Linked DNA regions of Homo sapiens: region 2 is linked to region 1. The links come from fine-mapping of genetic effects on gene expression. A gene starts in region 1. The other region holds a variant in brackets. All regions are shown on one strand. Distances are from middle to middle.

Region 1 (4,397 bases):
TATTTCTATCAGGATCTGCTGCCAACTACCCACAGATTTTTTCACTCTGTCTAGTTTCAAATGGCTTGAGATCAAACCTAAACTTTAGCTAAGATAATTAAATTGTGTTGGGGAGTTAACTTTTAAAGAAAGCTAATTTGGGCAAAAAGGACAATGGATCCAGGAGGTTAGTTCATACAGAACATTTAAATCCATGTAATTTTAGTGAAACAAAAAGAACAACTATATATACTTCTGCAACAGTTTCCTGTTTTGAAAAATTGGTATAGAGGTTTTATTTCTCATCTTGGCTTGGGTTACATTCTTTGTATAACTGTATCTTACTGCATATTGAATTCATGTAGTTGCAAACATGAGAGGTGGATTTAATAATGTTAATCAATATAAACCACTTTAGTGATCTTTGTGGGGAAAAAAGAAAAATGGCCAGAAGATGATTTTCAGGGTTGTAGGTATATTCAGTATAATTTATTTGTCTGTTCAAATAGAGACAGCAGTTCAGTTTTAGGGTGCACTGGAAAACATGACTTTTTATTACTACCTGGTATGTGCATCACTTATAAAAAAGACAACAATAAAAAAGTATTCCTTATAAAAAATAGCAGAAAATGATCCATAACTACAGAAGTATCTTCTTGTGGTCATGAGTAATTTTAATTTTTGAGAATCTCACAAATTGGAAGCTAAATAAAGCAATTCAAGTGTCCTTTAAAAACAACAACAAAATCAGCATGTAGAAATGAAAGGTACTCTCAGAAAGGTGGCAATCTCCTGCTACATTTGAGGAGGCTGGAACTACTGTATACAAGATATATGGATTAACTCAGTCACATTAAATCATTCATGATTTAGGCAACTCCAGATTGGGTTTGTCTAAAATCTGTTAGCACCTGGGTTCTTTCCAAACACCAGCAAGCAATTTTTACACAATCAGGTCTTTCCAAAGCCCATGACAATTTTCCTTTAAACCCTCTCCTTCCCTTCTACTGTTCTTTTCTTTGAATTCCACGTGCATTCTTGGAAAGACAGCAAGCAGTTAAACTCTCACCACCTCTCCACAGGTGAGGGACTAGGGACATGTGTAAAACGGAGTCACCTTCCTGTTCTGGCCATTGTCAATTTTTTTTTTCCTAAGGCATCTTGTTATAGCAACCATTCTAAAATTGTTATAGCAACCATTCTAAAATTTAAGGCAGTGGGTTGATCAGGACCTGAATTAGTTTCTGCCTGAGATGACTGGAAGGTCCCCTACTCCCTCCCCAGCCAGAAAAAGTCACATGGAATGAAAATCTATTAGAGAATCCCCTCAGTGTAGTCTTTCAGGAAGCATCTTCTCATTTCCCCATCCAAAATCATGGTAAGGACATCCAGTGACAGATGTCAAAGGGAAAGGATAAGGCAGCAGGAAGAGAGAGGAGCCTAAGAGACTGGAAAACATTCGATAATATAAAATGGGAAAATGGGAAATTCTGCAAAAAAAAAGAAGTCATATCATATTTCCTTTCACAGACACCAACCCAGTGCGTAGCTCCTTTATTTCTTTACACACTACCCCCTCCAACAGGGGATAAAAGATATGTTTTCTAAAACTTAATTTGGTACATTTCAGATAACCACATTCAATTCAACAAAGATGTATTAAGCATAAGACATTTACTGAGCATAAGAAATTCAGACACTGGAGGCCGGGCGCAGTAGCTCATGCTTGTAATCCCAACACTTTGGGAGACCAAGGCAGGCGGATCACTTGAATCCAGGAGTTCCAGACCAGCCTAGACACATGGTGAAACCACATCTCCACTAAAAATGCAAAAATTAGCTGGGCACGGTGGCGCACACCTGTAGTCCCAGCGACTCGGGAGGCTGAGGTGGGAGAACCAACTGAGCCCAGGAAATTGAGGCTGCAGTGAGCCATGCTCACACCATTGCACTCCAGCCTGGGTGACAGAGTGAAATCCTGTCTCAAAAAAAAAAAAAAAAAAAAAGAAAGAAAGAAACACAGAAAAAGAAAAAGAAAGAAAGAAATTCAGACACTGGAATGTCAGAGTCAGTCTCTCCCTTGATGAGGTTACCAAGGTGTAACAGGAAGTATACAAATACGCACAGCTAGAATGTAAGGCACAGGCCGCAGGAGAAGTGCATGGAGAAGGGAGAGAAATTGTACCTGGCCTCCTGAAAGACGCAGCCTCTGAAATGAATATTGAAGACTGGGGAGGATTTAAACAGGTAGAGACGGATGGAATGGTAAGGGACTTTCCCTTCTTCATATTCAGAAGGCTGTGAGCAGAAGCTAGGGAGCCTGAACATACACAGGGAACAGTTTCATTTGGCTGGAGGAGGGGAGAAGTGAGGTAAGCTGAGTAGTAGACAGGGATCCTATCATGGAAGGTCTTGAATACCAAGCTAAGAAATTTGAGCTCTCTTCTGTGGAACTGGGGGAGCAGTGGGTGGTTTTTGAGCAGGGGAGTGACCTAAGATTTGTGCTTTAGAACAATCACTCTAAAAATGGATTGTATGATGACCTGGAGGAAAAGGCTGGAGTGTCATAACAAGTTAGGAAACTGCAATAATAGTCTGCACAAAGGGCTCTGGGGATGGAGTACCGCTCAGTTGTCAGAGGAAGCATTCTTCTGGTGGTAATATGTGAATCTAAAAGGTAAATTTGACCGGGCATGGTGGCTCACGTCTGTAATCCCAGCACTTTGGGAGGCCGAGGCAGGTGGATCACCTGAGGCCAGGAGTTTGAGACCAGCCTGGCCAACATGGTGAAACCCCGTCTCTACTAAAAATACAAAAAATTAGCCAGGCATGGTGGCGTGCCCCTGTAATCCCAGCTACTCGGGAGGCTGAAGCAGGTGAATCGCTTGAGCCCGGGAGGTGGAGGTTGCAGTGAGCTGAAATCGTGCTACTGCACTCCAGCCTGGGCGACAGCAAGACTCCATCTCGAAAAATAAAAAATAAAATAAAATAAAATAAAATGTAAATCTAGCTCCACCTTTAATGTAGCAAGGGCTAGCCTCCTCAGGAGTGGCTGCCTACATTCAAAACGATTCTCACCAACTTCTTCCACAGGACACAGGGCTCGGGAGCAGCGCCAGCCCGACATCGGCGGAGGAGCACCGGAAGTTCTGCAGCACTGGCTTTCTTTGCTCTTCCACCTATGCAAGCTCCTTCTCTCTTGTGGCTTGCCGAGCCTGGTTAGCTCTGAGACCGGAAGTTCTGAAGTCAGCTGGCATCCTACATCTGTGCAACCTACTTCTCTCCCCATCCCACCACAGAAACCAGAGCCTCGAGGCTTTTGGCTTGGGTGCTGCCTTCACAGTTTAGGTTTTGGTAAGAAGAAAGCTTATCTTCATGTCATGAGAAAGAAAAAAAAATGTATCTTTACGTAACGAGCTGAAAGAACAAAACAAGTATACCTAAGCCAAGTACATGCTATCTTTATTTCTTTATTTCCACACTGAAATTTAGTCAGGGATAAAACTTACTTTTTTAATCACACGAAGTTTGAAAAATAGGAAGTACTATGGGAAACACCTAATGCATCAAAACCCCTGTGCATTTTATCTTTGTCTTATGTTTGCTGGATTTTAATCTTAGTAGGTTTCCTGTTGCAACAATACAAAAACAGATAAAGAAAAAACTTAATAACCTTTCCTACCACAAATGTGAACAGCCCGTGTTCTTGTTGGTAGGTACAGATACAGATATATGAGATTATCGTTATTTATTATCAGAAAATGGGATTTTACTATTTCCCACACACACACTTTTTTTGAGATGGGGGTCTTGCTATATTGTCCAGGGTGGTCTCAAATTCTTGGGTTCAAGCGATCCTCCCACCCAAGTATCTGTAATCCAAGTAGTCTGGATTACAGATGCATACCACCATGCCTGGCTTATTTCCCTCTCTTACAATTTGCAAAAATAATGATGTACTGAGGACATCCCCCAGGTCGATAGCTACAGGATTAAATCATTTCTCTTAATAACTATATATAATACTATTCCATTGTATGGATATGCCATAACATATTCAATTATTCCCCTTCGAATGGGCATTTGGGTTGTTTCTAGTTTGTACCACAACAAACAAGCCTCTATCAGTGCTTATCCACATTGCACAGAGAAGTGCTACCAGAGCCAAAAGCATTTTCTGAGTACCTACAATATGCTATTTTTATGAAATATACAAAAGAAATGTGTGACATAGTCCTTTCCTAAAAGACTGCCAAATATAGTTGGGGAAATAAGCCTAACCCACACAAAACACTTAAACTGTGTAAGACAGTACTGAACCATGTTCTACAGACCTCATGCAAATGGATGCCAAGTTGTCCTTCTGCACAATGACAGATTGGAGAGGTAATCTGGAGGTGCCTTTAGCCATAATATTC
Region 2 (4,397 bases), 110 kb after region 1:
AGGCAGATACTTTTTGAACTGAGATTCCACAAGATGAGAAAAGACTGACATTGAAATATGTGAGGAGCTATCTTAGAATGTTAGAGCTTGGAAGAATTTAGAGAATTTTCTACCTGTTCCCATTTTGACAGACAAAGAAACGAAGGCCAGGACTTACCCCAAACCATACAACAGTTAGAAGAACCATGAGTAGAATCCACGTCTTCTGATTCCCAATCTAGTGTTATTTTTAAAACAAACTAAAGCAAAACAAAATTTTTTAAATAAAAAAAGCAAAACTTTTAGAGACAGGTTAGAATTGTAATTAATTTCCATGTCTAGGCTCAAACAGATGTTTCCACAAGTCTCCCTAATTTTACTAAAAGCTCTGAAAGCTTTCTTAGGGGAAAATGGTCTTCTGGTATAAAAGATATCCTAGAAAGCTATGCTTGGATGCTTAAGACTCCCCAGGATGGGAGCAAGGGGACTCTAAGCAAACAAAAACCAAGAAATGCAAACAATTATCGACTTAGTAATCCCTGAAACAGCCCAAAGTGGACTATATATTTATTTGCTTAGCTCACTTTATAGAATATAAATTTTAAGTTTTCAAAAGAGGAGGCAAGTGAAAAGATCCTTAAAAATTATGAATATCATAATTACAAGCTGGATTCATGAATCATTAATTTCAACCTCTTAGGCTACCAACATATTTACAAACATAAACACTGATAAGGGCAAATACCTGCATTCCCGACCTCTGAAAGCAGCCAAAGCCAAATAATATATTGGTTAAAAGGTTAAAAAGGAGTAATCTATAAAGAGGGCAATCTTAGGCCAGGTGTGGTGGCTTACCCCTGTAATCCCAGCACTTTGGGAGGCTGAGGCAGGCAGATCACATGAGGCCAGGAGTTTGAGACCAGCCTGGCCGACATGGTGAAACCTCATCTCTACTAAAAATACAAAAATTAGCTGGGCGTAGTGGTGCAAGCCTGTAATCCCAGCTACCCGGGAGTCTGAGGCTCAAGAATCACTTGAACCCCAGGAGGGGGTCGGCGGGGGTTGCAATGAGCCAAGATTGCACCACTATACTCCAGCCTGGGAAACAGAGCGAGACTCTGTCCCAAAAAAATAAAAATACAGAATAAATAAAATGGGTAATCTTAGATTATCTATGAATTGAAGTAGGGTGGAGAATAGGAATTAGTCCTAAGTCATTGACATGGGTTAAAATCCTTCTCTGGAACTTGAAGCTGTTTGACTTTGTTACCTGGAAAGCCTTATTAGAGCTCATCTGCAAATACACCCTTCATAGGCACATTTGTAAGAAATGCTATAACACAAACCATGTGAAGAGCATCGGTCTCCATTACAGGCACCAAGTCACAGAAGGGAGAGGGCAGAGCTGAGGCACCATAAAGGCATCCAGTCCAACCTCTTCATTTTACAAAGAGAAACCTGAAGCCTACAGAGGTTAACATGTCTTGCCAAGGGTTGGCTAATGTACAACATATGTCACTTCTCCCTTCCCGTGTACCCATAGCAAACACTGGTAATCAATCACACTTTCTCGGATCCTTGACTGCAAGAGTCAGAATGTTTCTATCACATTACACCTGCAAGTCCTGGACCGATCAGAACTCATGTGTGACATGGAAGCTGTTTCCCAACTCTGCACAAGGTCATAAAACAATCTTTGTAATACCTGCACCACTGTAGACCTGACTCAAAAGAGACAGAGTAGTCTGCTAGTCAAACTAGTTTACTGTCACTGTCAAGCCTGTGGTGAGCAAACATGGAGTCTATGTGAATATATGATGACCACATATCCAGGTT[T/C]ACCCAGGACAGTCCTGGCTCACGTCTATTTGTGGCTTCATATTGAGTAGTATCACCTATGATTCTCAAACGGATAAAAATGATATAGTCATCCTAGTTCTGTGTAGTTCCTAATCATTCACAAACATTTATAAATGTTGTTTCATACATGATGTGTCAGGAAAAAAAACAAAAACAACAACAAAAAACACTTAACCAATCACCAGGAGTTTTCTCATACAAAGGGGCTTTCAAATAATACTAAACCCAACCAGTTTTCAAGAGGGACTCAGGGACCACTGTCCAAGCCAATCTTTTTTATATATTGAGCTTCAATATGAAATTTCTTCGGGGGAAAAAAGGAGTGTCATAGCTTAAACAAATTTGGAAATCACAAAATTATCAGATCTCTGTAGCTCTGCCTGTTTTTAAATTATTTCGTGCTATACTTTAGCCTATAAAAATTCACATTATCTTGTAGAAATACAAATCTTTTTAAAGAATCTTTCATTTCTGTTTCTGGTACAAACAATTTGTGCCTTTTTGAGTTCGTATTTGCTCTCTGTTTACAGCAAAAGAGGAAGTAAAAAGTTGAAATCTTAAAAAAGAAAGAAAGAAAGAAAAGAAAAAGAAAAAAGTTAGTTCCATTAATCCAGAGCTAGAGCTTATGTGCTGGCGTTGGCTAAAGAGCCAATCATATATGTAAGAGAAGAATAAGTTTATTTGGAAAAGTCATTGGTGTAGAGAACACAGATATCAGCTATGTGCACAAGTGAAAGGTAATGATATTATCACACGAAAAGTTTAAAAATTTTAACTGGCTACCCAGACAGAAGACTAGAAGGAAACATATCAAAATGTCAAGAATAGTTATCTCTTGAGTATACAGGCTTCAGATGGTTTTAAAATTTTTTGGTTTGCTCATCTAGCTTTCTGCTTTTCCTATAATGACCGCAGTTCGTTTTATATATATATATATATATATATATGAAAAAAATCACTGAACTACCAACACATCATTCACCGGGGTGAGGAAATGGAGAGGCTAATGGGAAAAGCCAGGTATAAGCCAGGCAGGGGCAGAGGCCTCAGAGCAGCTCCTTACTATGTACAGAAATGGGTCTGGCCCAAGAGGCAGAAGGAGTTCAGGGAACGCTGTTCATCCAATGGCTTCTCTGTAAACAAGATCAGACACCCATTAATCCCATGGCTGCACTGCCCTTTCAACTATGAAAAGTATAGCCTTGTGGTCAGAGCCCCACCTGTGCAATCAGACTGCCAGGGTAGGACAGTGTGCTAGATCACTTACTGGGCGTATGACCCTAAACCGGTCAATTAGCCTCTCTATTCCTGTTTTCTCATCCATAAAATAGAAATCACACCACCACCTACCTCCTAGTGTGGCTATGAGGATTAAGACATGATTCACTGCAAAGGCCCAGTATACAATAAGAGCACAATAAATGTGTGACATTATTAGGTCTCTGCCATGAAACACCAGCCTCAAGTGCACTCTCAAAACCATGTGATTGGGTCCTGAAACAACCAGAAAAGGTTCTAAATAAAGCCTTTCTTTTCCCTTCTTCTATGCTGAAGACAGGACTACAGCATACTGTTTGCTTTAACACCAGTGCTCTAGGGAGCCATGGAAGAACAAGGGCAGCCCAGTAAAATATGTAACACGTCCCAAGGCCCCACACTATGGGCTAGAAATCCTGCTCCCAAAGTTACACAGGATTTCTAGTCTCTTGCCACTGCCACCGCTGCCAGCCACTGCCTTTGGCAAGAAGGTAGGTGACTCAAGTGTGAACTAGGACTTGGCAAGGGAACACCAAACCAGAAGGCCTCCAGGCAGGAAGCTCCAAAAAGGCCACCTGCTGAAACAGTTTGTCTGCAGGCAGCCTCCGAGATGAAAGTAGTGTTCTGCCATCATTAACAAATGCAGGTAAGAATAGTGGACACTTTAAACATGCAACAGAACTTACCATCCTAGCTTCATAACTCTGAAAATAAATTTCGGGTAGAGATCCAGGCTGAAGATACGACCACACACTTAAAATGACTACAGTGCCTTTAACTATATGACATAAAGAACACCCTAAAACAGTCAATATCAAATCAATTTTCAAAAAGGTTTCATGGCTATCTTTGAGTCAAATGCCTTAGATCTGTATTTAACAAAATTTTCTTTCCCAAACTTAAAATTATCTCACTTTACCAAAAAATATAAAACTCCTAATGTCCACATACAAGGAACTAATTACATTATTATATTAATGACATAGTTGAGGATGTTCTATGTTACACAGGGTAACCAGTTCCTCCCAGTTTGCCTGGAATTTTCCCGGTTTTAGCCCCATATGCTGGGACACCAGTCAATCTGCACAAACCAGGATGGTTAGTGCCCCCTAAGGCTGCAATAAAAATTATGTGTGCCCTGTGAAGAGGAAAACAGAAGGGACACTGTTACAAAAGTTACAAATGCAGAAGTGCTAAATGCCAAGTTTGTTTGTTTGTAGTGATAGCTCCCAGTTCCTTTTTTACAGTGAAAAAAAAAAAAAAAAGACTAAAAATTACACTGGTCTCTCCCTTTTTCTTTTTAC

Alleles and levels. Positions count from the first base shown, and alleles are read on the strand shown. Sizes are in standard deviations (SD) of each study's normalised expression.
For the expression in T cells of the gene that starts at base 2,146 in region 1, C is the high allele of the variant in region 2 and T is the other (large effect, 0.87 SD a copy in GENCORD).

What was found. PIP is the estimated chance that this variant, and not a neighbour inherited with it, causes the effect. A credible set is the group of variants that fine-mapping cannot tell apart.
Region 2: its variant is the best candidate, but not a certain one, in a credible set for the expression of ANKRD44-AS1 in T cells (GENCORD, PIP 0.51).

The regions. Positions count from the first base shown.
Region 1 is chr2:197,195,846-197,200,242 of GRCh38, forward strand. It overlaps ANKRD44-AS1 (ANKRD44 antisense RNA 1), which reads left to right and starts at 2,146. Exons shown (of 2, transcript NR_135584.1): 1 at 2,146-2,244; 2 at 3,073-3,428. All of the region lies in intron 1 of ANKRD44 (ankyrin repeat domain 44), which reads right to left. RefSeq lists an enhancer at 3,192-3,261.
Region 2 is chr2:197,303,210-197,307,606 of GRCh38, forward strand. All of the region lies in intron 1 of ANKRD44 (ankyrin repeat domain 44), which reads right to left. Among named protein-coding and RNA genes, the nearest start is that of ANKRD44-IT1, 2.9 kb to the left of the region's middle. RefSeq lists enhancers at 1,586-1,715, 4,181-4,230, 4,271-4,350. The variant T/C (reference allele first, on the strand shown) is at 1,816.